Linked DNA regions of Homo sapiens. The protein of the gene in region 7 interacts with the protein of the main gene of each other region in a biochemical or structural test. Each region holds a gene or a part of one and is shown on either strand. Other genes may lie near its edges. The genes, in order: PARD3B, PALS2, GRID2IP, DLG5, TJP3, MPP7 and OR10G3.

Evidence for each region.
Region 1: the proteins of OR10G3 (region 7) and PARD3B interact in a test that uses a peptide from one of them, tested with the Homo sapiens proteins (one large-scale study listed by IntAct).
Region 2: the proteins of OR10G3 (region 7) and PALS2 interact in a test that uses a peptide from one of them, tested with the Homo sapiens proteins (one large-scale study listed by IntAct).
Region 3: the proteins of OR10G3 (region 7) and GRID2IP interact in a test that uses a peptide from one of them, tested with the Homo sapiens proteins (one large-scale study listed by IntAct).
Region 4: the proteins of OR10G3 (region 7) and DLG5 interact in a test that uses a peptide from one of them, tested with the Homo sapiens proteins (one large-scale study listed by IntAct).
Region 5: the proteins of OR10G3 (region 7) and TJP3 interact in a test that uses a peptide from one of them, tested with the Homo sapiens proteins (one large-scale study listed by IntAct).
Region 6: the proteins of OR10G3 (region 7) and MPP7 interact in a test that uses a peptide from one of them, tested with the Homo sapiens proteins (one large-scale study listed by IntAct).

The regions. Positions count from the first base shown.
Region 1 is NC_000002.12:205,300,385-205,304,876, reverse strand, and holds part of PARD3B (partitioning defective 3 homolog B), read right to left. Parts: intron 4,348-4,492; coding exon 4,141-4,347; intron 3,414-4,140; coding exon 3,176-3,413; intron 1-3,175. UniProt on the Homo sapiens protein: Putative adapter protein involved in asymmetrical cell division and cell polarization processes. May play a role in the formation of epithelial tight junctions.
Region 2 is NC_000007.14:24,649,952-24,654,443, reverse strand, and holds part of PALS2 (protein PALS2), read right to left. Parts: intron 3,960-4,492; coding exon 3,732-3,959; intron 1-3,731.
Region 3 is NC_000007.14:6,541,218-6,545,709, forward strand, and holds part of GRID2IP (delphilin), read right to left. Parts: intron 1-4,492.
Region 4 is NC_000010.11:77,818,158-77,822,649, forward strand, and holds part of DLG5 (disks large homolog 5), read right to left. Parts: intron 3,945-4,492; coding exon 2,925-3,944; intron 1,862-2,924; coding exon 1,738-1,861; intron 1,531-1,737; coding exon of another isoform or gene 1,448-1,530; exon of another isoform or gene 1,309-1,447; coding exon 1,164-1,308; intron 1-1,163. UniProt on the Homo sapiens protein: Acts as a regulator of the Hippo signaling pathway.
Region 5 is NC_000019.10:3,710,723-3,715,214, reverse strand, and holds part of TJP3 (tight junction protein ZO-3), read right to left. Parts: intron 1-4,492. UniProt on the Homo sapiens protein: TJP1, TJP2, and TJP3 are closely related scaffolding proteins that link tight junction (TJ) transmembrane proteins such as claudins, junctional adhesion molecules, and occludin to the actin cytoskeleton.
Region 6 is NC_000010.11:28,050,079-28,053,356, forward strand, and holds the end of MPP7 (MAGUK p55 subfamily member 7), read right to left. Parts: 3' UTR 915-3,278; downstream 1-914. UniProt on the Homo sapiens protein: Acts as an important adapter that promotes epithelial cell polarity and tight junction formation via its interaction with DLG1. Involved in the assembly of protein complexes at sites of cell-cell contact.
Region 7 is NC_000014.9:21,576,749-21,581,721, forward strand, and holds the start of OR10G3 (olfactory receptor 10G3), read right to left. Parts: upstream 3,329-4,973; 5' UTR 3,038-3,328; intron 1-3,037. UniProt on the Homo sapiens protein: Odorant receptor.

The DNA.
Region 1 (4,492 bases), on a different chromosome or scaffold from region 7:
ACCTCCCAGGCTAAGTCAATCCTCCCACTTCAGCCTCCTGAGTAGCTGGGACTATAGGCACATGCCACCATGCCCAGCTAATTTGTGTTTTTTTCCTTTTTTTATGGAAATGGGTTTTTGCCATGTTGTTCAGGCTTGTCTTATAACTCCTGGGCTCAAGTGATTTGCCCATCTCAGCCTCTCAAAGTGCTGGGATTACATGCCTGAGCCACTATGCCTAGCTGAATTTTTTTTTTTTTTTGAGATGGAGTTTTGCTCTTGTTGCCCAGGCGGGAGTACAATGGTGCAATCTTGGCTCACCACAACCTCTGCCTCCCAGGTTCAAGCGATTCTCCTGTCTCAGCCTCCCGAGTAGCTGGGATTATAGGCATGCACCACCACGCCCGGCTAATTTTGTATTTTTAGTAGAGAAGGGGTTTCTCCATGTTAGTCAAGCTGGTCTCGAACTCCTGACCTCAGGTGATCCGCCCGTCTTGGCCTCCCAAAGTGCTGGGATTACAGGCTTGGGCCACTATGCCTGGCCAAAATTTTGTTTTTTAATATTCAGATAGCTATTATGACATCAGGCCTGCTGGGGTAACCTCACCCCAGGTGATAGCAGGACCGCAGCAAGTCTTGTCATAACACATCCAGGGGCAACATCGCTCCCAAGATTTTGAGCATGAGGAACCTTGCTTAGCATTTCATGAGCACTGGAAATGTAACGGGAAGGCTCACTGCTAAGAGGATTATTTGTATTCCCTAAATGTCACTTATATATGGAATGATGGAACTTTCTTTTCTATGTAGAAATTTCAGCTGATGATCACAAAATGAGAACAATTGGTAATAAATACACGCAGCATTCTTAAATGAGGTATCTCCTAAGGGTTTCATAAGAGGTGGCCAAACTGGCCCCTAAACCATCATCTCCCATCATTCACCTTCAGCCCACAGAAGTATAGTGATCAATTGATTTGAGAAGAAATTATAGGAGTAAAGACAGTAATAGAAAGGGGTACTTCTGCCTGTAACACCCAACAAAATAAGTGAGGGGGCTACAAGTAAACCCCTTAGGGAATTTGGAGGTAATTGTATAATAGGAGATTGTCACCCCACTTCCTACCTGTTTATTTTGTGACTTGCAAAAATTGACTGCCTCCTCCCTTCCCCATGCATGACAGCATTCTTGGGAGAGTCTGATGTGTGCTTCTGGAGTGAGGAGGCCCAGAGCTGGTGTGGGATGTGCTGGAGAAGTCTGAAGATGCAAGGCTGGTTGGAACATCTCTATGGTGGGGTGAGGAGGAGCGGTACAGTGGGAACAAGCTGTACTTGCATCATTTGGAGGGTGGGAGATCAGGAACTCTAATAAGCCAGGTAGATGCTGTGGCTGTAAGTTAAGCTAGAGCTGTCTCAAACTGGCACTGTCCAAGAAGTCTACCAGCCGGGGTAAGGAGACTCAGGGGTATATGTCTGAGGTCAGAGGCTTAGGGAAATAGGTCAGTGGGAAAATCACCTACATTAGTGACTGGTATAGTAAGGAGCACTCTAAAAAATCCACAAAAGTAGCCACAAAGATTCCTTGATGGCCAGATTATACCAGATAATGCCAGTTAAGTAAAATCCTATCCTATTGAATCTTGTCTTTGTCTCCTGGTTCCAAAGACTGAGAAATAGGAGAAGGTGGAATCCTGCCTCCCACCATACCATAGGATGCTCCTTGTGGTTCAGGTCCAACAGGCAGAAAGGAAGAAAGCTTTCATTTATATTGGATTGCATATTTTAGCCCCCGACAAACAAGTTGCTTTTTTTTTTACCCAAAAGTGACCAGAAAGCTATCAGCCAGAAAGCTGAGATGTCAGGGTGTGGAAGAGGCAGCCTCAACAGTTTATACTTGAAGGGGAGAGAAGAAACAAAGCTGTTTTCTGACTGTGCCATGTTGAGCCCCGTCTAGTCAATGAATGTATAGCATATGAAATCATATCTCACAACTGTGCTGGGTCAGTAGAGCAAGTATGCTGGCCTCATTTTAAAAGTAAGGAAAGTAAGGCTCAGGGAAGCTAAGCAATGTGTGTGAAGCCCCATTGCTCATGTGTGGGGAGTCATGGATCCAGACTTGGGCATCAGAGCCCAGACCCAGTGACATCTCCCCTGTACCACAGTGCCTCTGGAGGTGACAAGTGATGTGCCCAGAGGCCCGGCCACTGCACACCTAGAGTCACAGAGGGATGAGGTTCATCTACCCTGACTCCCCTGCTTCAAAAGAGGTATTCCAGAGGTAACACATAGGGCTTCCCCACTTCCCACTTTCCCTGTGGTGTCAGAGGAAGTATTTATTTTCATAACACTTTGGTACAAAGGACTGCAGGCATTGTCCATGCCTCTACTAAGTATTGGCCTTTCTTTTATGGTGTAATCATAGCTCACTGCAGCCTTGAACTACTGGGATCAAGCCATGCTCTGGCCTCAGCCTCCTGAGTACTTGGGATTACAGGTATGCACCACTGTGCCTGGCTAATTTTTTTTTTCTTAGAAATAGGGTCTCCTGCCTGAAACCCCAGCACTTTGGGAGGCCAAGGCAGACAAGGCAGATCACTTGAGGTCAGGAGTTCAAGACTCCTGGCCCACATGGCGAAACTCCACTCTACTAAAAATACAAAAATGAGCTGGGCGTTGTGGTGCATGCCTATAGTCTCAGCTACTAGGGAGGCTAAGGCAGAAGAATCGCTTGAACCCAGGAGGCGGAGGTTGCAGTGAGCCGAGATCACGCCACTGCACTCCAGCCTGGGCGACAAAGCGCGACTGTCTCAAAAAAAAAAAAAAAAAAAAAAAGAAAAGAAAAAAGAAAAAAAGAATAGGGTCTCCCTACCTTGCCCAGGCTGGTCTTGAACTCTTGGGCTCAAGCAATCCTCCCAGCCTCCCAAAGTACTGAGATTACAGGCATGAGCCACCGTGCCTGGCATAGTGTTGACCTTTCTTTGACAACAAACTTAAGACAGTGTCCTGTCATCACTGTAACTTTCCCCAAAAAGCTCCTCTGCCTCTGCAGAAAGAGAACGAGCACAGAATTGAGAGCCGTATGCATTTGGCTGAAGACGAGGAAAAGCGTGCGCTTTTTTCTGAGTACAGACAAAGGAGTGATTTTACCAGGAGAGACAAAATGAGAACCAACTTTGCCTTCAAAGCAGGCCCATACCTCAGCATGGCGCCGAAGCCCTTCTTCTTTATTTTCCTTTCTGGATCTTCATTCTCCTCTTTGCGCTTTTTCTCCTTGACTTTCAATTTGCCCTTTTCCTTTTTCTTCTCCTTCTCTTTCGTTTTTTTGACTTTCCTGGCTTTATTTTCCATGTCCTCTAGCTCCGAATTCCCCTGAGGGGCAGACTCACAATTCAGAGCTCCTTGGCCAGAGTGAGAGCTCTTATCAGACAGACCGTCTGTACAGAGAAAAAATAATCAATACCCATGGTCAGGGGCACACTCAGTTAGTATACAGAGAAACGCTAACATGTAAAATGCAAAAGAATGAATAACAGCACTCTGTAGTTCTACCCTTCTATGTGGTTACGTGCGCCCTTTGAAGATCTGACTGCCTAAATCTGGTTACTTCGAGCAAGACTTGATGCTGGGAGTGGGGACAACCGGTTGCTTAGCTGGTAGTATGAAAGGCTTGATATGTGTTCAAGCACTAATCTCTCTGAAAGCTGCCTTGTTAACCTTGATCAGCTCAGAAAGCCTGCATGCTGGGAAACAAACAGGGTGAGAAGAGAGTTTTGAGTACAAAATATCCCAACTGCTTCTACCCAATTAATGCAGTCGGAGTCCTTGGATTGATGCTGCCTCTAATGACTCGAATGAGAATGTCAAGAAATGCATACTTAGTGCTCCTACCCTAAGGGTAAATGACAGTTGGTCCTTGTAGAAAAGTGAAGGAGAACATTTATTTAGCCTTGCACTGTAAAATAAATTGCATATTGTGTTCTCCAATTCCATGTTCATTAAGCCAAAGGGCAAAACATATCAGGAAAATGAATTACTTTTAATATCAAAAATATAATTGTGATCCTTAAATCATTTTTTTCTGTAGTTGAGCACACATTCTTGCCCATGATTTGCAGATAATAATGAGATGAAGAAGCCATTTAAGGAAGCATATCATCCTACCAGCTTCTATTTCTTCAGGTCCATCGTAGGATTTGTCAATGGCTGCTCTAAAGCTCTCATTGCAGCCTCGGCCTCGAACCATGTGCGGCCGGGGCCTGTGAAAGGGAAGGTCATTCTTCCTGACCTCGGCCACTGCAGTCTGCAGACTCTCCAAGGAGCTGGACTTTTTCAAACCCAGAGTTGGACCAAAATCTTTGCTTGGAGATTCTGGAAAAGAAAGGGCAAAAGGTCACCCCTCTTCTAATGGGGCAGTGTGGTGTAATGCTATTGTTCTAAGAATATTTCTGTCTGGACATCCCAAAAAAGGGGTGTTAAGTGGGTGGGAGTTGGGGTTATACTCCAGCTTTGCCAC
Region 2 (4,492 bases), on a different chromosome or scaffold from region 7:
TCATCTTATTTTCAGGTACCTTGGTAAACTCTATTATTTCTAATAAGTTGTAGTTTTGAGGGGTTTCTATGCAAAAACATGATCATATTTGTAAATAAGTTTTATTGCCTCCTTTCCAAACATTTTGCTTGTATAATTTATTTTTGTCATACTGTACTTATGGATCCTTCAAGAAAATATTAAATATAAGTGGTGCTAGTGAGCATCCTTCTCTAGTTTCTTTTTTTTTTTTTAACTAGGCAAAGGCTTTATCTTTGTTTTAAACTATTTTCTGGCTAATTAATTGCCAATAAATAACTGTATATAATCAATAATTAAAAAGCAGTGTCCAAGGGTCTTGGAATTTATAGACTTACATTTTATCATATATAAAACAAAAATTTTAAAAGCAGTTAAAATTCTTGAAATTGTATTATTTTTTAGAAGCTGAATCAATTCAGTTTGCCTCACTGTTGGAAGCTTCATCAAAATTCTGAACAAGATCACCACTTCCCCAATAGTAAGTGGTACTTTTCCATCCAGCTTCTGCCAGTTTCCTTAAGCTTGTTGACACCAAGCTGGTTTAAGACACTGGGTGGCATTTCTGTTAGCTGCTTTGTCTCAGCATGTCTGGTAATGGTCAAAGTGTTCGCTGCTAGAGATGTCTGAACACTGGGATTGTTAATGAAGATCACCATTCCTTGGTTTGCAGACATACCTCTTTAGTATCAGAGATATTGCCTATTTCTACTTTCTTTCAGGAAAACTGAAGATTTTTTTTATCATCTGTTTTAACAGATAATGTTTGCTGTATCATCTGAGGGCAGTTCCTTTTTACCAGTGCACAATTGTGCTTGAAATCTGGCAAGTTTTTCATGGTTTGTGAGGGCTTTTTCATTTTATAATGAAAACGAAAGTGGAATTTCGTGAGTGGAAATTAAACTTCGTGGGGTATTGGGGTTGGCACTAGAGGTCTCAGGCAGACCAGCTGCAAGGCCAGTTTCTGACTTTAAAGGGAAAGCTTCTAACATTAGTTAATTCAGAATAATGTTTGTTCTATTTTTTTTTTTTGTAATAAAATTAAGGCTTTTCCCTTCTGTTCCTAATTTACTAATCATTTTTTAAAAATCATTGAATTTTATCAAATTCTCCATTGAGGTTATTCTCTTTTCATCTGGTAATGTGCTTAGTTACATACATATGGATTTTCTAATATGAAACTCTCCTAGCATACCTGGGATAATAAATCTAACTTGGATATGTTGTATCATCTTTGTTATATACACAATCAAATCTGATTTGCTAATATTTTGTTGAGAATTTTTAATGTATATCCTTGAATGAAACAGTCCTGTAATATATTTTCTTATATTGTTTCTAGTTGTCCAGGTCATGTTGGTTCCAAAGAATAAGAGAGAATTCCTATCAGTTGGCCTTAATAAACAAATGGAATTACGAATAGCCCCCGGAAATCTAAGCTATAAGAAAGTTGAAGAACTTCAGAATTGGCTACTTCTAACTCACTCTGGCCCTCAAAATTTAAAACATAGATACTTATGTCCCATAGCAGATTCTGGACTTTTACCAAGCACCTGAAACGATTCTGATAAAGATCATCTACTGACTATGCTTTTGAAAAACATTACCGTGGTAGGGAAGAGTTCTTGGCTTTCATTTGCTCTTGCAGCAATCCAGAGCTGAGACTAGCTCCACAGCACTACATGGTGGAGATTTTAGTGAAAGAGTTGAAGACGCAAAATGCCCTTGCTTCCCTATAGCATCTCAGTAGGATGCCCATGGTTTGCAGATGCCCTGGTTTATGCCTATTATTCCAGCATATGAGTAATGTTCCCCTTTTCATTTAAAAAAAAAAAAGTCTCAATTTGGATGTTCTTTTGGAAGCCTTCATGTTATAGTTTCTTTACTTCTTTATGGGAGGACACGCCTCAGGCTACCTCGGACTTATAAGACTCCTCCTCTCCTACTTGAATTCATTTCCCCAGCTCTAAATGCTAAGTGAAAAGCAGAGTTTGAGAGGGTATGGAATGTGGAAAACTTATGTTTAAACAAGGCTAAATGTCCTTGCATTTCATGGTATTCAGTTAGTTCACCAGATGCAAAATCTATGTAGGAATTTGGGCCAAAGCCCTAGTTATTAATATTATAAAATTTTATTTTGCCTGTAAAAGTCTCTTATAGCCATGGTGAGCTAGAAGAATTCTGGAGTTTAGACCACAGAAGGAAAATAAGATCTTCCTACTACAACTAACACATAATAATAAATAAAATACGTAAATCCTAGATTTTACTCTTCCAGCGTACGCAGGTCCAAGATAAGGCCTCAGGCTGTCACAAATTGAAAGTTGCCAACTGAGGAATAAAGGTAGCCTGAGAGGTACTAGTGATATGAAATGTCTAAGTACTAATATCATTTATTTTTCACAATTCTTTTCCTTGAGGACCACAAAACTACCTTCATTTCAACCAAAGTTAATTACAAGCCTATCTATTTTCATAAGTTCAATTTACATGCTAATATTAATGACTAAATAATCTATCCTTACCTTTGAAAGAACAGTTTAAAATAGACATTCAATGAAATGTTATTTCAAATAACTGTATGGAAATGTAAGAACTAGACTTTTAAACTCTCATTTTAACAATATGAAATAAGATACACTGGCAGTATCTTATGTAAGAAAACTTATAATTTCATTCATACATCAAACAATAAATTTCTGGAATAAACCTAAGCATTAGAGGCATCTACTTCTACATTACTTAGGCTTGAAAACCCTCTCTTTGGTTCCAACACTCCTATCATAATTTTCAATTCTTCCTCCGCAATTTCTTTTTCTTTCTTTACGGTTCCATTTCACCACTACTGCGTCATCACCACAGCAAGTGCAGCCACTTCTTGAGCACTCATTATGTGCCAGGTGTTGCTGTGAGAGCATTACATGAATTAACTCGTTTAATCCTCATAACAATCTTTTGAGAAAACAAATTTTATCCCTAACTATATAGATGAGAAAAATGAAGCACAGAGAAGGTAAGCTGATAACTGGCAGCACTGGTATTTGAACCTAAGTGGTCATCTTAACCATTCATTAGAGCTGTTGTTCACAAATCACCTCACACCTTCAAAAATCTGCCACCTGGTTACATAATCTCATCTCTCTTCTTTTTGAATTCACTTAACATACCGAGTCTAGACAATCTCTATAACTAAAACATTTTCCCGTTCAATTACCTAGTTTACCTAAAATTAGTTTTAAAATACAGATCAAATGTGTGCAAACCAGGGGTCCAAGATTTTCTTTATACCCATCCTCTTTTCTGGCCTCATCAGTCATTTCACCCATGACACAAACACTAAGCTGGAGGTGATCTGGACTGCATTTTTATCCTCTCCCAGGGCCTAATACAATGCCTGAACATAACAGCTGTCAGAAATGTTTACTAGATTAGTAATTCAAAGACTTTATGGTTCTTCTGATACCTAGCTGTAGGTTACTATTATGCCAGGGTTCCTGGTGTTAATGAAGAAATCTACTATTTCCTTTACAATAGTAAAATAGCATTGTTTAAAAATTCAAAAATTCACCCATGACAAAATAAGCCATTTCAGAACACTCAAATCAATTTTTTCTCTTTTCTTTAGCAAAATAGTAGCAACTGATAGTTATTTCCAACACTGTGATTAAAAACATGAAAGTATTTTTAATACTACCAAAAATTTTATTACTAACCTGTTGAGGAGTAATGGTATCTCTATAACTTGGTAAGATTTTTAGGGTGACACTTCCACTAATATTTTTCAGTAATTCTTGTAATTCCTTTGGATTATTTCCAACCTCATGGCCATTGACTTCTTTAATTATATCTCCCACATGAAGTAGACCTTGTCGATCTATCATTCCCCCATGGAGGATTCGGGCAATTACCAGATCATTATTTTCAACCCTAAATGTCACACCCTATGAAAAATAAGAAACAGATTTCTCATTAATTATTAGGGAGAAATGCTTAAATATTCATGAGCATATGTAAGAAAATAATTCTAAAACTAGGTAAAATGAATCATTCTTACTTTTCCCATGTTCTCTCCTGTCTCAATATTTCACTCCCATTAAACTGTGTACTAGTATAGTTTATTACACTAGTGGATAGGATGTATCTTACAGGCTAAATGGAAACTCGAGAGAGCAGGAAAAGGTATTTGTGCATTCTGATGGACTTATTCCTGGCTTTTCCTTTTTTGCACTCACTGTTCTTATAGTCAGGATCCAGAAGTAATAATTTTACCAAGGAATAGTAAACTTCACTACTTAGAGAGTCCTAGTATGGCTTCAATTTTTAATAACAACTTCTTTTTATATTTTGATACTGTCAGTATTTCTTCAAAGGGTAGTTCATGTCTTCAAAGGGTAGGAAGAAACATAATAGTCATCTTCTGAAATTTTTTGCTACCCCTTGCCATATTTCTACTTCTAGCTCAGTTTAACTTTTC
Region 3 (4,492 bases), on a different chromosome or scaffold from region 7:
CTGGTAGAGGTGACGGCGTCACGGGGTGAAAGTGAAGGGTCAGGATTCAAACCCAAAGAGAGCTGTTCTAATAAATATCGTAAAGATCAAAGGAATTAATATAAAAGCTTAAAACCACACCACACATTCAGTAATTGCTAGTTACTATTATTATAATACTACACTCCCTTCCATACTGTGCGCTGAGAGATCCCACACAGAACATTCTGACTCCACAAAAAAAGTCCTGGCACGTCAGCTTGGCCCTGAATTTTGACTCCCTCAGTTCTCTCTCCAAACTTTTGTCTTTGTCCACAAACCAGCTGATACTAATCAAGGCACATCTGCACACAGGAGTGTGTGGCCATTGGAAATGAGCGTGCAAATGGACACGTTGGAAACGTGTGCAAATGATCACGTTGGAAAGGAGCATGCAAATAGACATGGTGGAAACGAGCGTGCAAATGCACACGTTGGAAACGAGTGTGCAAATGGGCACATTGGAAATGAGCATGCAAATGGTCATGTTGGAAATGAGCATGCAAATGGTCACGTTTCTGGAAGGCAGGTTGTTAAGTGTGTCCAAAGCCCATCCTTCTACCCAATGATCTCACATGTAGGAATTTATCTTACACACATCCTGACAAGACACATGCACGATGATGTATGAGTGAGGTGGTTCACCTGTGTATTATTTCTAACACTAAGACGTTGGCAGCAATATAAATATCTGACAGTGGGGGCTAAATAATTGCAGTACATCCATGTGGGAGATATTTGTAGTTTCTTGGCTATCTAGGCCAAAAACAAAGAGGAAAATCTCAGCCAGGCGCGGTGGCTCACACCTGTAATCCCAGCACTTTGGGAGGCCAAGGGGGGCGGATCATCTGAGGTCAGGTGTTTGAGACCAGCCTGGCCAACATGGTGAAACCCCGTCTCTACTAAAAATACAAAAATTAGCCAGACGTGGTGGTGGGTGCCTTTATTCATCCCAGCTACTCGGGAGGCTGAGGCAGGAGAATCGCTTGAACCCAGGAGTCGGAGGTTGCAGTGAGTCGAGATCTTGCCATTGTACTCCAGCCTAGGCAACAAGAGCAAAAACTCCATCTCAAAAAAAAAAAAAAAAAAAAGAAAAAAGAAAATCCCAAAGTAGGTGGGAGGCAAGATCCTGGCAGGGCTGGGGGCAATGGTTCACACCTGTAATCCCAGTGCTTAGGGAGATCGAGGCAGGAGGATTGTTTGAGACCAGGAATTCAAGACCATCCTGGGCAACATAGCATGACCCCATTTCTACAAACAAATTTTTTTTAAATTAGCCAGATGTGGTGGTGCATGCCTGTAGTCTCAGCTACTTGTGAGGCTGAAGTGAGAGGATCACTTGAGCTCAGGAAGTTGAGGCTGCAGTGAGCCAAGATTGTGCCACTGCACTATACAGTCTGGGCAACAGATCAAGACCCCATTTCAATAAATAAATAAGAAAATAAAACCATGAAATAGGGAGTGATGGCTAAGGAGTGCAGAATTTCTTGTTAGAGTGATGAAATTGTTTGAAAATGGATGGTAGTGATGGGTGTTACAATCCTGTGAATATATTAAAAACCATCGAATTGCCCACATGTCATACAGTTTAGCCACTGAAAGCACATACTCCATGAGACCCTTCCCTTGTTGGCTGAGGGTCTGGTTGTCTCTGGGCACTGACAGCTGGAGCTGACCCTGAAGCAAGGCTGGGCGGCTGAGTGAGTCCATGAGTCGTTCACGTCTCCCTCTCTCGAGGACTTGTGGGTGCAACTTCAGCCTGAACTGGGGCTGTCAGGCCCCGCCTCTCTCACCCTCATCCACCTCCAAACTTCTCAACAGACTCCGCATCCTTCCCTTCCATCCTCTGCTCTCAGAGGTTGAAGAGGCCCACTTCCGGCCGGGTGCGGTGGCTCACGGCTGTCATCCCAGCACTTTGGGAGGCGAAGGTGGGTGGATCATCTGAAGTTAGGAGTTCGAGACCAGCCTGGCCAACATGGTGAAACCCCATCTCTACTACAAATACAAAAATTAGCTGAGCATCTGATGGCAAACGCCTGTAATCCCAGTTACTCGGGAGGCTGAGGCAGGAGAATTGCTTGAGCCTGGGAGGCGGAGGTTGCAGTGAGCCAAGATCGTGCCACTGCACTCCAGCCTGGTGACAGAGCGAGGCTCTGTCTCAAAAAAAAAAAAAGCCCCCTTTGTAGTCAAGGCCAAATCACCAGGCCACAGACACCTCACCATTCCCAGTCTCCACCCCTTTCTTCCTGCCACCTACTTGTCATTCAGCTTTCAGCTCAAAGATCATCTCATCAGGCAGCCTTTCCTGGCCACCCTGTCAAAGTGGGTTGCGTCACTCTCACCTCACCCTATTTATGCCTCCACTTTATTCATCATCATCTTTTTTTTTCTGGAGTCAGGGTCTTGCTCTGTTGCCCAGGCTGGAGTGCAGTGGTGCAATCATAGCTCCCTGTGGCCTTGAACTCCTGTGTTCAAGCGATCCTCCCACCTCTGCCTTCCGAGTAGCCAGGATCACAGGTGCACGCCACTGTGCTTGGCTAATTTAATTTAATTTTATTATTATTATTATTATTTGAGAGAAAGTCTCACTCTGTCGCTCACTCTGTCGCTCTGTGCAGTGGTGGGATCTTGGCTCACTGCAACCTCCACCTCCTGAGTTCAAGCAGTTCTCCTGACTCAGCCTCCCAAGTAGCTGGGATTATAGGCAAATGCCACCACGCCCGGCTCATTTTGGTAATTTTTGTAGAGATGGGGTTTCACCATGTTGGCCAGGCTGGTCTCAAACTCCTGACCTCAGGTGATCCTCCCACCTCGGCCTCCCAAAGTGTTGGAATTACACGTCTGAGCCATCGTGCCTGGCCTGTCATGATCTTTAATAGCTTGTGTATTGATTAATCCACTTGCTTACTGTCTCTTTCCCTGCAGTAATGTTAGGTGTGTGAAGTCAGGCTCCTTGCCTGTGTTGTTCATGGCTGTTTCCCCTGTCCTGCACATCATAGGCCCATGATCAATGACTGGTAAATGCATGGTTTTCTTTTTCTTTTTTCTTTCTGTTTTTTTTGAGATGGAGTGTCACTCTTATTGCCCAGGCTGGAGTGCAATGGCATGATCTCGGCTCATTGCAACCTCTGCCTCCCGGGTTCAAGCGACGCTCCTGCCTCACCCTCCTGAGTAGCTGGGATTACAGGCACCCGCCACCACAACCAGCTAATGTTTTGTGTTTTTAGTAGAGACAGGGTTTCTCCATGTTGGCCAGGCAGTCTCGAGCTCCTGACCTCAGGTGATCCACCCGCCTCAGCCTCCCAATGTGCTGGGTTTACAGGTGTGAGCCACTGTGCCCGGCCTGCATGGTTTTCAGTATATCTACTTCTCCATTCCCTGCAGCTTATATAAATGTTCAAGTCTCTCTCAGGCTATAAATAAATAAATAACAAGCTGGGCACAGCAGCTCATGCCTATAATCCCAGAGCTTTGGGAGGACAAGGCGGGAGGATCACTTGAGGCCAGGAGTTGGAGACCAGCCTGGGCAACATAACCAGACCCTGTCTCTAAAAAATGAAAGACAGCCGGGCGCGGTGGCTCATGCCTGTAATCCCAGCACTTTGGGAGGCCGAGGCAGGCGGATCACAAGGTCAGGAGATCGAGACCATCCCAACTGACACGGTGAAACCCCGTCTCTACTAAAAATAGAAAAAAAATTAGCCAGGTGGGCGTGATGGCGGGCGCCTGTAGTCCCAGCTACTCGGGAGGCTGAGGCAGGAGAATGGTGTGAACCCGGGAGGCGGAGCTTGCAGTAAGCCGAGATCGCGCCACTGCACTCCAGCCTGGGTGACAGAGACAGACTCCATCTCAAAAGAAAAAAAAGAAAGAAAAGAAAAAGTAAAAAGTTAGCCAGATATGGTGGTGCACGCTTGTATTCCCAGCTACCAGATACTTGGGAGGCCGAGGTAGGAGGATCTCTTGTGCCCGGGAAATCAAGGCTGCAGTAAGCCATGATCACACCACTGAGCTCCAGCCTGGGTGACAGATCAAGACCCTGTCTCCATAAATAAATAAATAAAAGACAATCCTCCTTTGATCCTGAAAGCTGCTCATTCTCCTCCCTTCTGTAGTCTGGAGCCGTCTACACGTGCTGTTTCTGTACCACTGCCCTTTGCCACTGCAGTTCACTATTGCACTTGAGGCTCTCCACGACCCAGCTCTGGCGAAGAACCCCAGACAGTGACTCTCAGACCTCGATCTTCAGCCGAGAGCTCGCTCTTGAACTCTGGAACTGTATATCCACCCGCTTTCTAGATGATTCCAAAAGGGGAGGAGAAGTAGCGGGAAGCTTCGAGGGTTTCCAGTCAGAGGCCACGTTCTGTACACGTCTGAATCCTAGCACAGATGCACCATGAGTCTGTGTAACCGTCTGTCTCCCCCACCCAGGTGTGATGATCCGGGGTCTCATGCTTGTCCAGCCCCAAGCACAGCG
Region 4 (4,492 bases), on a different chromosome or scaffold from region 7:
AGGAAGAAGTGATAAAAAACAGAGGTTTTGCAACCTGGGTGGGCCTGGGGAGGGGGAACCTGTCCTCCCAGGAAGTGGGTAAGGAGAGACAAGGCACAGAGGACTTTGGGGAGGGGACCTATGTGCCTCACTCGGGACAGCGTGCCTAAGAAAATGAAGGGCAGAGCAGGGATCGCCCACATCAGGCTGCCCTGAGACCAGGCCTCAACAGCATCTTTTTCCAGCTATGTAATGAGGTGACATCTCTTCCCTGCTTAAACTCTACAGTGGTCTCCACTGTCCTTAGAATAAAATCCAAACTCTTCATCACCGCTGCAGGTCCCACAGGGTTTGTGCCCTGTGACCTCAAACCTCTTCTTGACTCGCTGCCCCTTTGACAAGCTCCCACGACTGTGCCTGGGTGCCCTGGCCTTGGCACCGATGGCCCTTCTCCCTGGAGGCTCCAGCCCAGGTCTTGTGCAGCTGGCCTCTTTCATCCTTCTGGTCACAGCAGCATCCCCTCTGCCACAGGGCCCTTCCTGACCACCCACTCTAACTTGCCACCCTCTTCCAAGTTACAGCCCAGCCTGTCACCCTGTTTGACTGCCTTCATAGCCTCTTGGCACCATCTGATATCACTTCGTTCATTTTTTTTTTTTGTCTGCCTCCCACATTTGAAAAACCACACGACATGAGCTAGAAGCTAATTTGTTTAGTTCAGCAATGTATCCTCTTATAATTAGGATAGACCAAGGCATGTAGTAGGTGCTCAAAAAATATCTGTCAAATGAATGAATAAGAGTGGCTTGGAGCCAGCCCACCCTCTTATGAAGTACCAGTTTCCTCATCTTCAAGACAGAAACAGTAATAGGACTTAGCCCATGAGGTTGCTGTTGATTCGGTGAAATGATATTCATAAAGGTCTGAGCACAGTGGCTGGGACATAAGCACTCAAACATCAGCTGCTATCACTATCGTGTCCTTCCAGTACCTTTTGAAACCTTGTGCTGATGAATTCAGAAAGCAGCCCTAAGGCTCCCTTTCCCTGTGCTGCTCTAGCCAGTCCCCTCCCAGGCAGGCAAGGAAGCTTCTCCACCAATGAGCCTCTTTATGCACTCATGGTTCCATGTCCAGGCAGGCTTGGGCAGCTGGAGTACAGAGAAGCGTAGGGTGCCTTCACATACCTGGGATGCAAACCCTGGGGGCCAGCATCTCGGGCCGCAGGTGGAGAGCTGCAGGGGCCGACCCTGTGACTGCGCACAGTGTAGATGGGGTTCCGCAGGATGGAGCTCACAGTGGTGCTGGGGGTCAAACTCCGGGGAACAGTGCCTAGAAATGGGCTTGGTGAGAAAAGACGCCCCAAAGGACCCAGCCAGCCCAGGACTTACACAAGCCTTTCCCCTGTATCCCAGGACGCAGCCGCAGTCTTTTGGGAAAAGGACTTGGGAGATGAGTTTTAACCACCAATTCACAATGTGGCTGTGGCTCCTGGCCTGTCTCCATTTGTAAAAAGGGGGGAAGTCTCTTTCATGCTTCCTATTTCCCAGGTTGCTATGGGGAGAAAGCATGTTGACAAGCTAAGACATGTCATGGCTATAAGACAAACCATCCCAGACAGGACAGCATTTCCCAGTTCTCTGGACCTCAGGGCTGAAAACACATGGCAGCTCTCTGAAATGCTGCCTCCCCTCTCCCTGGAGACTAGGCATCCCGAGTTTACACCGACCCTCAGCCCCAGCCCCTGGCTGGCTGACTCACCCACAGACGGCCTGCTAGGGTATAGCGGGGGGTTGCTGTGCCGGCTGGAATGCCCAGGCGAGTAAGGTGCCCACTCCTGGAGCTCCGGGGAGAGTTCTCCACTGGCCGGGACACACTTCTGTTCCTGCAGATGCAAGGGCAAGAGTGTCTGCTAGAAAGAGTGGAGTGTGGCCAGGCGCAGTGGCTCACACCTATAATCCCAGCACTCTGGGAGGCCGAGGCGGGCAGATCACCTAAGGTCAGGAGTTCAAGACCACCCTGGCCAACATGGCGAAATCCCGTCTCTACCAAAAATACAAAAATTAGCTGGGCATGGTAGTGGGTGCCTGTAATCCCAGCTACTTGGGAGGCTGAGGCAGGAGAATCGCTTGAACTCGGGAGGCAGAAGTTGCAGTGAGCCAAGACTGCACCACTGTACTCCAGCCTGGGTGACAGAGTGAGACTCCATCTTAGGGGAAAAAAAAAAAAAAAACCAAACAGTGGAACGCTTGAGCAGCTCTGCAAGCCAGTTTCTGCCCCCCAGGAACCAGCTCCTCCCACTGGGGCACAGGAAGGGACATGAATGGGAACGCTGCCCATTCATGTTGCCTTACACATCTTCAAGGAAGCAGCTTTACTTCAGAAGAAAACCACAGAGAATGAATCTTTCACAGAGATCACGTAAAAGGTGAGAATGCACAAGTGCATCAGGCACGTACAACTCTGCCCGATGTGGAGGGCTGTGCGAAGCTCTTTGTCCCCAGTGAGCAGTGTGGACTGGTGCCTGAGATGCTTTCCACAGTCCCCAGCAATCTCACCCTTCTGGAAACTATGACAGCACACGCAATCAGGCCGTCCCGCTGCCCACTCAGCCTCACACGTGCCACCTCATCTCCCTAGCCCTTCAAGGCAAGTCTATGCCCTAGGTTTTATTGTGTAAGTTCAAAAGCTTCTTATTAAAAAAGCAAACCAAATGCTATGCCCAATAAAGTGTTCCCCTCTTGTGTCACACTCCCACTACCATGCACTTCCACGCCACTTACCTACCTCCTAGCTGGGCCACTTCCCACTTGAGTCCAACAGCAAAGGCAAAGGCACCAGGCTAAACAGGGGCCTGGGACACTGGTGCAGGGCCACTTAGCAGCCCTCCTTCGGCCAACTGCCCCTCTCTAGGCCTCCCCTCCCCACACCCTGGGGCTCAGCTATACCTCCAGGAACTGAGCAGGAATCACTACTGGAGCAAGCTTCGGCCGAAAACTGGGAGCAGATTTTGGCCGGCGACGCTTCTGCCCCAGCTCATCCACCTTCTGGGAGGTGAGGTCCTCATCACAGGATTTCTTGGCCGGCAGGTGGGAGGAGTCCCCATCTCCTTCAGGGTAGTAGCTGGAAGCAATGCGGACCCTGGCCTTGCGAGGGGGTGATGCGTGCATGGGCTCCCCGGGGTCCACGTCAGGGGGCAGGGCGCTCGGGGGACTAGTGGATGGGGAGCTGCCCACCAGAGTGGCTTCTGACTCGGAGCTAGTCTCCAGCCTGTGCTGGAACTTAATGGAGTCGCTCCTTCTGGGAGGTTTTGGGGGTGTCAGAGGCCCCGCCCTCTTGGAGGGCTGGGGAGAGTGAGCAGGCCCAGGACCTGGAAGCAGGTAGTCTATTTTGGGGGGTGTCTGGGGGCGTTTGAAAGTGTTAGGGTCAAAGATGGACTTTCTTTGCTTTGGCTTTTTATAAACAGAGAGCTTCTCAGGCACTGCCGTGGAGCTGAGCATGGCCTTGGGCCAGGTCCCGCCGCTGTTGGAGCCTTCAGAGTCTGCCTTGTCCAGGGAGGCCTCCCCAACCCCACAGGGGCCCACCTCGGTCTCAAAGGGCAGCAGTGGCCGCCGGCCACGCACGTCCACCAGCCCAAAGCCACGGTCCCCAGAGGCATCTGAGCGGAAGGAGCTCAGGCTACGCTCAGAGGCACTGGGACAGGCCTGGGGGCAGACCTGCAAGGGTCCCCCAGGGAATGGCTTATGCAGAAAGGAGCTGCTGCCTCCTGGGGGGCCTGGCTCCTTCCTGTCTTCCAGCCTGTCCGTGTAGAAGATGTCTGTCTGCGTGGAGTTATTGTGCTGTATCAAGTTCCGTTTGTTATGAGCCTGGACCTCCGGGCCATGGGCTCGAAAACTCAGCATCTTATCAGAGTCTTTGATATTTTCAAAAATGTTCTGGCCACTCCACGAGGAGCTCTGAGGGAATACCTAGGCAGGGATTGCAGAGGAGTGAGAGAGAGAGTGAGATGGCAGGACTTGGAGCTGCCACTGAAAACCATCCCCAGAGGTAAAGCAATGGTCAGGAATGGGCCACCTGCCCCTTAAAAAAGAGACAGATAGACAGAGATGCACACACACATGAACACATATGCTTCTCCCTAATGGATAAGTTTTCTCATGGCTCTGGTCACTCTGAACTCAAAGAAGAGTCAAAGTTTTCTTAACTTTGAACACTTTCTGAAATTATCTGGGCCGGGCACAGTGGCTCATGCCTGTAATCCCAGCGCTTTGGTAGGCTGAGGCAGGCGGGTCACGAGGTCAGGAGTTCGAGACCAGCCTGACCGATATGGTGAAACCCCATCTATACAAAAATTACAAAAATAAGCCAGGCACGGTGGCATGCACCTGTAGTCCCAGCTACTTGGGAGGCTGAGGCAGGAGAATCGCTTGAACCCGGAGGTGGAGGTTGCAGTGAACTAAGATCACGCCACTGCACTCCAGTCTGGGCGACACAATGAGACTCTGTCTCAAAAAGA
Region 5 (4,492 bases), on a different chromosome or scaffold from region 7:
GGGAGGCTGAGGCAGGAGAATGGCGTGAACCCGGGAGGCGGAGGTTGCAGTGAGCCGAGATTGCGCCACTGCGCTCCAGCCTGGGCGACAGAGCGAGACTCCATCTCAAAAAAAAAAAAAACCAACCAACCAAACAAACAAACAAAAAACCTGGTTTTCTACTGTTGCCTCACGAAGTAAAAATAATAATAGCAAAAAGAAAAGGAAAAAAAGAGAAAATCTGCTTTTCAGCAATCTACTTCATTTGTGCCTTAATTCTTCTGTGCATTCAGTCACTCAGTCAACAAAACTGTTGCAAGCCAAGTATATGACGTGTGATTGGGAACCAGCGTTCAGGGCCAGTGTGATCTGAGCAGGGTGAGGGACAGGAGGACCCAGGGAAGGTGGAGTTCTGGAGGCCTCCCTGGGATGAGCCAGCTCAACCCCTTCTGAGTGCTTGTGGGAAAACTGAGGCCCAGAGATAGCAGGGGCTGGGCTGAGGTCCCCCAGTGGATCAGGGCCAGGATGGTCTCGAACTCTGACCTCGTGATCCGCCCGCCTTGGCCTCCCAAAGTGCTGGGATTACAGGTGTGTGCCACTGCGCCTGGCCTAATTGTACTTTTTAGTTACATATGCGATTATTCAATTATTGTCTGTCTCCCCTAAAGACTGTGGGCTTCCACTGTGTCTGTCAATCAGTTCTTCTGCAGCCCCATCACTGTGTATGCAGTACGTGCTCAATAAATACTAAAAGAACGGGCTGGGCGCGGTGGCTCACATCTGTAATCCCAGCACTTTGGGAGGCCAACGCGGGTGGATCACGAGGTCGGGAGTTTGAGACCAGCCTGGCCAAGATGGTGAAACCCTGTCTCTACTAAAAATACTAAAATTAGCCAAGCGTAGTGGCACGTGCCTGTAATCCCAGCTACTCAGGGGGCTGAGGCAGGATCATGAGGTCAGGAGTTTGAGACCAACCAGGCCAAGATGATGAAACCCTGTCTCTACTAAAAATACAAAAATTAGCCGGGTGTGGCGGCGGGCTGCTGTAATCCCTGCTACTCAGGAGGCTGAGGCAGGAGAATCTCTTGAACCGGGAGGCAGAGGTTGCAGTGAGCCAAGATTGCGCCACTGCACTCCAGCCAGCCTGGGTGACAGAGAGAGACTCTGTCTCAAAACAACAACAAAGAAATTAAATAATAGTAATAATAATAGGCCGGGCGTGGTGGTTCACCCCTGTAATCCCAGCACTTTGGGAGGCCGAGACAGGTGGATCACGAGGTCAAGAGATGGAGACCATCCTGGCCAACACGGTGAAACTCCGTCTCTACTAAAAATACAAAAAAAAAAAAAAAATTAGCTGGGCATGTTGGCGGGCGCCTGTAGTCCCAGCTACTCGGGAGGCTGAGGCAGGAGAATCACTTCAACCTGGGAGGCGGAGGTTGCAGTGAGCCGAGATCGTGCCACTGCACTCCAGAGCCTGGGCGACAGAGCGAGACTCTGTCTCAAAAAAAGAAATAAATAAATAATAATAATAATTTTAAAGTTACAGAAAAGTAAATACACAGAGAATTCCTTTATACACCCAACTGATTTCCACTAACATTAACATTATTACACGGGTACATATGTCAAAACCAAGAAGTCAACATCAGTACAACCTTGTTCACTGAACTCCACACTTTATTCACGTCTCTCCGCAGGCCCTTTGCCGCCCCAGGGCCCCATCCAGGATCCCACCTGGTAGTTGGCTGTCACGTCTCCTTAGACACCGCTGGGCTGTGACCGATTCTGTCTTTCCTGTTCTGTGACCTGTTAGTCTGTGCTGGGCAGGTCTTTTGCAGAATAACTCTCAATGTGGGGACATTGGGGACCAGCTGTTTCCCTCATGACTAGACTGGCGTCATGGGTTTTGGGGGACCCTGGGAGGTTTTAAGGAAGCCGTGTGGAGAGGACGGGGCAGGAGCAGAGACAGAGAGCAGAGATGGAGGGCAGCCAGGTGGGAGGAGACGCCCCGGTCTGTGGGTTGCCAAGATCCAAACGACCTTTGAGGAAGGGCAGATTCTAGGTGTGGCCGGCTCAGCCCTAAGGCACTGGAGGGCTGAAGAACGTCTCAGGGTTTGGCGTCCTGGGGAGGCTGGAGGACCTCATGGGGGGCACTTTGAAGTAGGACTCATGGGGGGCACTTTGAAGTAGGAGGAGTGTGGAACCTGCTAGAAGCTTGGAGTATGGAATGCAGCTCAGGGTGTTCAACAGGGGACTTTCTTTTCTTTTCTTTTTTTTTTTTTTGAGACAGAGTCTTGCTCTGTCACCTAGGCTGGAGTGCAGTGGTGCAATCATAGCTCACTGCAGCCTCCACTTTCCTGGGCTCAAGCGATCCTCCCACCCCAGCCTCCTGTGTAGCTGGGGCCACAGGTGCACGCCACCCTGCCCAGCAGATTTTTGTATATTTTGTAGAGACGGTATCTCGCTATGTTGCCCGGACCTGTCTTGAACTGCTGGGCTCATGCGATCCTCCCACCTCGGCCTCCCAAAATGTTGGGATTCCAGGCGGGAGCCACCAAGCCATGCCAAAGATGCCATTTCCCCCAAAAGGGAGGACGGCTGAGCTCTAGAAGGAAGTTCCACAGCAGAGAGAGAAAAGCAGAGCCCATGTGAATTCCAGCCCCTGCCTCAGCTTCCTCATCTGTAAAACGGGGATCCCGGTTTTGACCCTGAGCAGTATTTCAGGGAAGGCTCAAAGGTTTAAGCATCTGCCACTAAGGATCCCCTGGGCTGCCTCTCCATGCTTCTAACTCCACTCGGGCCCCCAGTGGGAAAGCCAAAGGTGAATTACAGTGTCCCAGGGCTAGAGGGGGCCCCCTGCCCCATGGAAACCATCTACGCTAAGGTGCTGTCATTCTGGGCACGGAATGACATTTTTGAGATGGAGTCTTGCTCTGTCTCTGGGGCTGGAGTGCAGTGGTGCGATCCCGGCTCACTGCAACCTCTGCCTCCCAGGTTCAAGCAATTCTCCTGCCTCAGCCTCCCAAGTAGCTGGAATTATAGGCACACGCCAACACACCTGGCTAATTTTTGTATTTTTAGTAGAGACAGAGTTTCACCACGTTTGCCAGGCTGGTCTCAAACTCCTGGGCTCAAGTGACCCACCTGCCTTGGCCTCCCAAAATGCTGGGATTACAGGCGTGAGCCACCGTGTCTGGTCCAGAGGAGAACTGAAAGAACACACACACACAGGCAATCAAGAATGCTGAGGCCGGGTCGGTGGCTCTCGCTTGAAATCCCAGCACTTTGAGTGGCTGAGGCTGGCAGATCACTTGAGCCCAGAAGCTCGAGACCAGGCCGGCCAACACAGCAAAACCCCATTTCTATTTTCAATTTTTAAAAAAAAGAAAGAAAGGAAACAAATTAATTCCCCTCTGTATAGGCTATAAAGTCTTACCGGTTCCCATATTAATTAATGAATTAAGCAGACACATAAAGCACCTTTTTTTTTTTTTTTGTACTTTTAGTAGAGACAGGGTTTCACCATGTTAGCCAGGCTGGTCTTGAACTCCTGACCTCGTGATCCACCCGTCTCGGCCTCCCAAAGTGCTGGGATTACAGGCGTGAGCCACCGCATCCGGCCTCATTTTGTATTTGTATGAGAGTAATGATTTTACTATTTTGGGAAAAAATATCCTTTAATATCATAAAGCCAAATGTCTTCAGGCCAGCATTTAAAGCTCTCCCTTCATTTTGGCCGGACGCGGTGGCTCACGCCTGTAATCCCAGCACTTTGGGAGGCCGAGGCGAGCGAATCACCTGAGATCAGGAGTTCGAGACCAGCCTGACCAATACGGTGAAACCCTGTCTCTACTAAAAATACAAAAATTAGCTGGGCGTGGTGGTGGGCGCCTGTAATCCCAGCTACTTGGGAGGCTGAGACAGGAGAATCGCTTTGAACCCAGGAGGTGGAGGTTGCAGCGAGCGGAGATCGTTCCACTGCACTCCAGCCTGGGCAACAGAGCGAGACTCCATCTCAAAAAAAAATAAAATAAGGCCGGGCATGGTGGCTCACGCCTGTAATCCCAGCACTTTGGGAGGCTGAGGTGGGCGGATCACAAGGTCAGGAGAGACCATCTTGGCTACCACGGTGAAACCCCGTCTGTACTAAAAATACAAAAAATTAGCCGGGTGTGGTGGCGGGCGCCTGTAGTCCCAGCTACTCGGGAGGCTGAGGCAGGAGTATGGCGTGAACCCGGGAGGCGGAGCTTGCAGTGAGCCGAGATCGCGCCACCGCACTCCAGCCTGGGCGACAGAGCGAGACTCCGTTTCAAAAAAATATAAAAAGTAAAATAAAGTTACAAAGCGCCTCTCACGCATGTTACCCTCTGTGCAGCCATTGGCTCCATTACTGCGCTCTTGTTTCATGTCTGTCTTTCCCCACCAAAATATGCGCCCCACGAGAGCAGGAAGCTTGGCCTGCCTTGCTCACTGCTGAATCTCCAAGGCCTGGTGACCCCACACTCGCGCA
Region 6 (3,278 bases), on a different chromosome or scaffold from region 7:
AAAAATTAGCCGGGCGTGGTGGCGGGCGCCTGTAGTCCCAGCTACTTGGGAGGCTGAGGCAGGAGAATGGCGTGAGCCCGGGAGGCGGAGCTTGCAGTGAGCCAAGATCGCGCCACTGCACTCCAACCTGGGCAACAGAGTGAGACTCCATCTCAAAAAAATAAACAAAAAAAAAAATAAAGCTTCTAAAAAATGATTTATTGTAAACTTCCAGTGGGCTTACTAATAGGAAAACTGTTTATGTAGGGTGATTGAGAATACTTACACAGCTATTTTTAAATTGTGTGATGTGATGATAATGACCATTATACAACAGGAGCTCACAATTACTGAACACTTCTGTCCCAGGTTTTGTTCTAAGTATACATGGATTCTTTCATTTCATGCCCACACCAATCCCATGAGGTAATCACTGTTCTTGTCCCTATTTTTTTCTGATGAGAAAATGAAAAACAGAGAGGTTCAGTGTTTTTCCCAAGGCTGCAGAGCTGGAAACAGGCAAAATCAGAATGTGAACTGAAGAATTCTGACTCCAGATCCCATGCTCTTAAATGCTTTTAAATGCTCTTCAGAGCAACCTTTCTATGGATGCACAGCTGGGGCTAACTGGCTCGAGGACTGAAGCAAGGCCAATGCTAGCTAGTTTGCATAGCAGATGACAATCTGTTCCTATATGCACAGTTGAAAAAGTTGAGTTTCGCCTAACTGGAGCTCAGGAAGAGGATATGTGTGACACTGATTCCTAGTGGGAGGGAGGGAGAGGAGGTGGGGAGTGGGGGAGGTGTGTTCCCATCATTGATGGTCCTAATTCTTCCTTCCCACTAAGGTTCTCCACATTTTTAAATTGCTGGAATGTATGGGTAAGAACAACACTAGTGAATTCCATCTCTCCAACAGCCTCGATGAAAGCAGTGTTTGATTGAAAAAAATATGAAATTTAATTTTAGACATGGCAAGTTCAATTACATCACTTCATATCACAGTAGAAAATATAATTTGTTCTACCATGGGAAATAGTATAATGGAATAGATCACAATAGTAGTATAATAAAATAGAATATCCAAGTGCAAAAACAATTTTCAAGTAAGTACACACACTGTTTGAAGGTACTTTATTAAGATCAAAGATTTTTCATTACATTTATTTATAAATCCTTCCTAGTCAAAATAAAATAATAAAAATCTGTATCTTTAGAAAGAACATAGTTTTGTAAGTCTGAGAAGGTTATGTTTGTCAGTTTCAAATTATTACAGTTTAGATACATTCAATCATTACACAATACCAGGAAGGTCAGCCTTAAAGATACCAAGAACTTCCATATTGGTCAGTAAAATAAGGGTAAAAAATTAAATTTTACTTTCACCTTTTTATGTTTGATTGACTACAGTCAATAATAGGAGTACAGAATTTACTTTTTGGTCTTGATTTTTAAATATATGAATTTTAAAAAGTGAACGTTCCTCTTCTCTTACATAGTGGCTCCAACTTAGGGAGCTGGCTTCTGGAGGGAGGAGTGCTATTCTCCTTGCTGGAGAAGGAGGCTGGGGGAAGAAAGTACAGAATTCAGGGCCTTTTTGCTGCCGTTGTCAATGAACTCTCGGAGTTGGCCCTGCCTTATTAAATTTTAATCAATTATCTTTCTAAGCATCAAGATGGCCATGTAAACACTGTTTTTAAGACCACGTCTACCGGCTGGGCACGGTGGATCATGCCTGTAATCCCAGCACTTTGGGAGGCCAAGGCAGGAGGATTGCTTGAGCCCAGGAGTTCAAGACCAGCCTGAGCAACATGGCAAGACCCTGTCTCAAAAAAAAAAAAAAAAGTATACTACCTGATTTCTAAAATTACCAAAGTGCCCCCTTTTCCCCCCATTATTTAAAAAATATTGTTCTAGCTCTGCGCTTAAGGTCTGGACCTTTCTTTTTTAAAATGTTATATTTTTATAACATCTTATTATTACCACCACCAAAAAAGGACTCAGTTTCTCCCACTTTACACTATATCTCTGTCCCCAAAGTAAATAACTGAAGCAATTATCTGCAATTTTTTTAAAATGTGGGTATTTCAGGGTAAAGAATTTGGACTGCCTAAATTACTCAGGTGATTGCCTGAATTATTACATATGTCCCATCATTCTTTGTACAAGAAGTCTTGATTTATAGAAAATTTCAGACAATGTTCAAAGAAGGAAATATGCTACCCAAACAATCTACTTAAGACTTCAGGTTGGCAACCCTCCCTCTTTCATTTTTTAAAAACAAAATTTTTTGCTATTTAATTAATACACTTAGAACTCACTGTCTGGATCACGTTGTTATATAATACTTAGTCTGATTATCTATTTTGGTGTGACTATGTGTCAAGGCCATTGGAGTGGTTTTTGTCTCTGCTTCTAATATGAACTTGACAAGTATGAAGGAAAACCAGTGAATAATGCTATCAAATGTGCAGTGCACAGATCGCACACTTGGATCTATCTTTGTAAAGCTCAAATATTTACATGGAATGTTGACCATGATTTATAAAACTACTCTTTTAAATTAGGACATCTTGACATACAATCAGTTTATTTTATGAATAGCCCCGTTTGATATTTAAAAAAATATGCCTTTAAAATATTTCATAAATATATAGAATTTTACTACATTCTATTTTTTTTCACATGACATTTAAACTCTCTTTACAAATCAACAAAAAAATAACATTTTTTTTTCCACTTTGAAAGTCACAGATGCAATGATTTTCGACGGGCAGGGCTTCACTGCATGCAAGAACGGCAGGATATGCTCTCTTATAGAACGGATAGACATTTCTAGCATTTTGAATTATATAATTCACTTGCTGAAAATCAGTAGTATCAAAGAAAAGTGAGAGAACCCATCTAAATATTTACAATATAAGAGTCTTTCCTAAACTTCTTTAACAATGGCAAGGTTAGGATGGTGTCTGGACAGTGTTAACAAGCATTTTGATGACAAAGAAATAACATCACATGAAAAGTTTTCTAAAATAAATCTTAGAGCAATTTAAAGAGGGGTGATCTATTGCACATAGATGAAAAATAATCTTTAATTGTATCAGTAATATGTAAAACAGGTTTTACATGTTTTAGAATAGAAATCCTTCTTCTAATTTATTGGAAAAATCCAAAACCAGCTAAAATAACATTTTGGGTGACTTCATAAATTGTCTTCTGAGGAATTACAAATAAAAATATCCTTTGTAATCATTTCTTGCCACAAGGCTACCATTCTTACTTATATTAATCCCAAAGGAA
Region 7 (4,973 bases):
TTTTCCATTGATAGGGAATGACAGTCCACCCATAGCATGATGATTCTTGTTTTATTCAACCAGAGAATAGAATTTTCTAACTTTGTCCTTAGATTTCAGAACCATCTTAAAGGGAGGAATGAGAGGAAAGAGTGCAGTTTTATTTGTAATACCGAGTATCTTTATTGGGTGTGATTTCATCCCAGTTACCTCTTTTTGTTTTCTTCTTTTTGTTTCTCTAACTTTTTGCTCCTCAGTAAGTTATAAATATTAATAGAAAAACTTCCCTTTACCTCTGATCTGTTAAGACCTTTCTCCCTGTGTCACTGCCATTATCATAAACCTCCAAGCATAAAGCTTAGTATTTGCCAGGTAACCACCCTTCTGCATACTCTCTGGCTCATTAATATCCCACATGTGGTTCTGAGACACTTTATTTAAATGCTTTCAAAAATAAAAGAGAGAGAGAGAGAGAGATACGGAGGGACAGAAAGAGACATGGAGGGAGAGAAAGAGACATGGCACAAGGAGAAGGAAACATGGCACCGATGAAACCTCCGGGGACCAGAGTGATAAAAAGTCATAGAATAATGGTGGCATTTTGCACCTGTGTAGTGTTTTTTAATCCTTAGAGGTTAAATGGCAGAGGAGTCTCACAGCTGTATAATGCTGGAGTAAAGGCTCCAACCAGATTGTGTTGTTCCTAGTCCAGCACTCTTTCCACATTTTACTGAAAATTCCTTCCCACAAGGAACCAAATCAAAATAATGTAGTAAATCATGTGAACTGAATCACAATTTTAAGAGTTTTATGGTTCATTCTGTCAAGGATTCTAAACTGGTGTTACTACCCTATTTCAAAATTGAGACATAGTGGAGTTAAGAGCAAGTTCTAAAATCAAACTAGAGTGAAGTTTAGTTACAATGAATTCATGAAGTTGCCCGACTTCTTTCATTGACAATCTATCACACTGAGTGTTTCTTAAAAAAGCCCGAGGGAGGCCGGGCGCGGTGGCTCACGCCTGTAATCCCAGCATTTTGGGAGGCCGAGGCGGGCAGATCACCTGAGGTCGGGTGATCAGCCTGACCAACGTGAAGAAACCCCGTCTCTACTAAAAATACAAAATTAGTGTGGTGTGGTGGCACATGCCTGTAATCCCAGCTACTCAGGAGGCTGAGGCAGGAGAATCGCTGGAACCTGGGAGGCTGAGATTACAGTGAACTGAGAGCACACCATTGCGTTCCAGTCTGGGCAACAAGAGCAAAACTCCAACTCAAAAAAAAAGAAAAAAGCCTGAAGGCTTAGTAGTGTTTTTATTTCACAGATACTTAGTCTTTGAATATATTGATTAAATGTGTTTTTGAATTCTCATCTGATATCAAATATTAAAGACCATCTAGAGGCCGGTCGCGGTGGCTCATGCCCGTAATCCTAACACTTTGGGAGGCCAAGGCTGGTGGATCACCTGATGTCAGGAGTTTGAGACCAGTGTGGCCAACATGGTGAAACCTCGTCTCTACTAAAAATACAAAAATTAGCTGGGCATAGTGGTATGAGCCTGTAATCCCAGCTACACAGGAGGCTGAGGCAGGAGAGTAGCTTGAACCCGGAAGGCAGAGGTTGCAGTGACTTGAGATCGTGCGATTGCACTCCAGCCTGGGCAACAAGAATGAAACTCCATCTCAAAATAAATAAATAAATAATAAATAAACAAAATAAAATAAAGACCATCTAGTACATGAATGTTTGAAAAATATATGAGAAATATTAGGGGACCACAAACTAAATAAAAGTGTATAATTTTGAGCAACCAAGGAGATTAGACATCTTTTCTAATGAGGCGAAGGGCACAGGCTTAACCTCATTTCAGCAAATGAATTTTACTTAATTCTGGTCCCAAACTGTATCCCTAACCCATCTTTCAAATGGCCATGAAGAAAACTTTAAAAATTTTATTATTTTCTGAAAATCGACTCAAAGCACACTTTTTTATTTATAAAAAGCATTTCAAATATTTGGAAAACTAATATAATTAATTTCTTTTTAAAATAAATTTCACAATAAGACATATAAAATGGAAAATAATTTAAAGATGAATAACAATGGAACAAATATATACATATATAATATGAGAAAAGTTTGAGTTATTAAATTGAGAGACATGAGACAATTTCTATTAAAATGTAAAACCCTTATTAGCAATGAGTTAGAATTGTCTGTTTAAAATATTTGCCAACAAAGAAATCAGGTTATAGCTTTACTCATGTCCATTTTTCAAATTTTGGGCAGAGAACTTGTCTTATAGGTGGAAGGGACCTGGTGAGGACAAAAAGAACAGAGCAAGGGTGGCACCACCACAGAACTCGAAGATGCTCTTCCTAGTCTGGTTGGTATTAAAACCAGTGAATGGACTTTTAATGGAGAATAGCTTTGGAGAAAAATTTAGCCAATTAAAGGCCTGGGGGAAATAGTGTTATCCAATATTAGCCACTATTTTTTAATTTTTTAATTTTTTTAATTTTAATTTTTATTTTTGAGATGGAGTCTCTCTCTGTTGCCCAGGCTGGAATGCAGTTGTGCCATCTTGGCTCACTGCAACCTCCATCTCTCAGGTTCAAGTGATTCTCCTGCCTCAGCCTCCCAAGTAGCTGGGATTACAGGCGTGTACCACCACCCCCAGCTAATTTTTGTATTTTTAGTAGAGATGGGGTTTTACCATGTTGGTTAGGCTGGTCTTGAACTCCTGACCTCAGGTGATCCGCCCGTCTTGGCATCCCAAAGTGCTGGGATTACAGGTGTGAGCCAACATGCTTGGCCTATTAGCCACTATTTATAAAAAGGCTAAATGGTAGTTACATAGTCATATGAGCAGAACAGCAAAGAAAATTTTTGTGACAGCAGAAAAAGAACTATACTGAGTAACTAAACAAGTAAGAATATTGAGAGATGAAGTGACTCAGAGTAGAGAAACCCCTTACACAATGTTTGGACTTAACATTTATCTCTGAAAAATGGGATTAGAACAGTGGCAGGTGCTATTTTGAGAAGAGGAACTCACCTGAAGGTGTCAGCATCCATCAAAAACTCTTCTTGCAGACGGAGAGAAAGGATACAAATCTATTCCTAAGGAATCTTGAATATCTCATAGGTCAGCAGCAATTATTGTGAAGAGCTCGTGGCAGAAGACCCAACTAATTACTTTTGGCTGGATCAAAGTAAAGAGTCAAACTATGGAAACTTAATTTATTATTTGCCTGCTTATTTGTAGAGATATCTGCTTCCAGCTTCCTTATGAACTGGGGGAGGAGCTGTGGCTCTTACTGAAGATAACTGTTAAGGTTGGTCTCTCCTGTGTTCTACTACTTCTTCTATTTCCCTCAGAGTCAGTTTTTATGTGTGAGACCTTTAGCTTGGGGAATATTGTAATAGCACTCCTGTGATAGGCAAGACCAATATCCATAGTTTGTTTCCTAGGAGACTCTCTGGGTTTCTAGCTTTTTCCAATTTTGTAACAGCAGGTGCGACAAAGTCTGTGGGGCTTAACAGGTCTCGTTGAAATCTTCAGATCTGTGGTTTTCTTTCTGTTCCAAAGCAAATTTGGAAAAAAAGAGAAGAAAAAGCTAACATGGTTGTTACTTGGCAAGAGATGTGTTCTTATTGGTGCATTCACATTTTAAGAAATTCACACTTTGAATTACTAAGGTGCTAACATAGACCTTCACAGACTAGAAGAAACAGAATTTCAGGGTTGGAGGGACATTAGAGGTCATCTGATCCAACTATCATCTGTAATGTTTTAAGTCAAGCTCCCTGAACAGTGATTTTTCTTTTTTAATTTTACAATTTTATTTATTTATTTATTTTTTGAGACAGGGTCTTGCTCTGTCGCTCAGGCTGGAGTGCAGCGACGTGATCACGGCTCACTGCAGCCTCATCCTCCTAGGCTCAAGCGATTCTTCCACCTCAGCCTCCCAAGTGGCTGGGACTACAGGCACATACCACCACACCTGACTAATTTTTAAATTTTTCGTAGAGACGAGGTCTCACTAGATTGCTCAGGCTGGTCTTGAACTCCTGGGCTCAAGTGATCCTCCTCCCTCTACCTCCCAAAATGCTGGGACTACAGGTGCAAGCCACTGCCCCCGGCCTGTTATTTTTCTTAGTATTTCTTGGTCTTGTTTCCTTGAATACTTTGAATTTGGTCTAACTTATTTTCTTCTAGACTTAAATTTGGTGTTGTCGCAACATTTTTCCCAACTGTCTTCAAATGTCCAGAGATGGTCTGTGTTGTAAAAGAACATCTTGAATATGGTTTAGTTTTATTATTTTTTCCACCAAACTTTTGTGGAGGTCTCTGTAGCTTCCAAGCCACAATTGTGTTAAAGTGTCTAAAGCAGAGGAAAGCACACTTTCTCTCTAAAGAGGCAGATAATAAATGTTTTTGGCCTTGAGGACCATACAGTCTCTGTTGCAGCTACTCAACTCTGCCATTGTATGGGAAAGCAGCCATAAAATACACATACAAATGGGCATGGGTTTTTTTTTTTTTTGAAACGGAGTCTCACTCTGTTGCCCAGGCTGGAGTGCAGTGGTGTGATCACGGCTCACTACAACCTTTGCCTCCGGAGTTCAAGTGATTCTCCTGCCTCAGCCTCACGAGTAGTTGGGATCACAGGCACCTACCACCATGCCCAGCTAATTTTTGTACTTTTAGTAGAAACAGGGTTTTACCATGTTGGCCAGGCTGGACTAGAACTCCTGACCCCAGGCAATCTGCCCGCCTCAGCCTCCCAAAGTGCTGGGATTACAGGAGTGAGCCACCTAGCCCAACCCCGGCATGGTTTTATTTATTTACTTAATTATATACTTTACTTATAGATACTATAATTTGAATGTCATAATTTTCATGTATCATGAAATATTATTTTCATTTTGCTTTTTTCAACAACTTAAGAAATGTAAGTTCTAGCAGGGTGCAGTGGCTCATGCCTGTA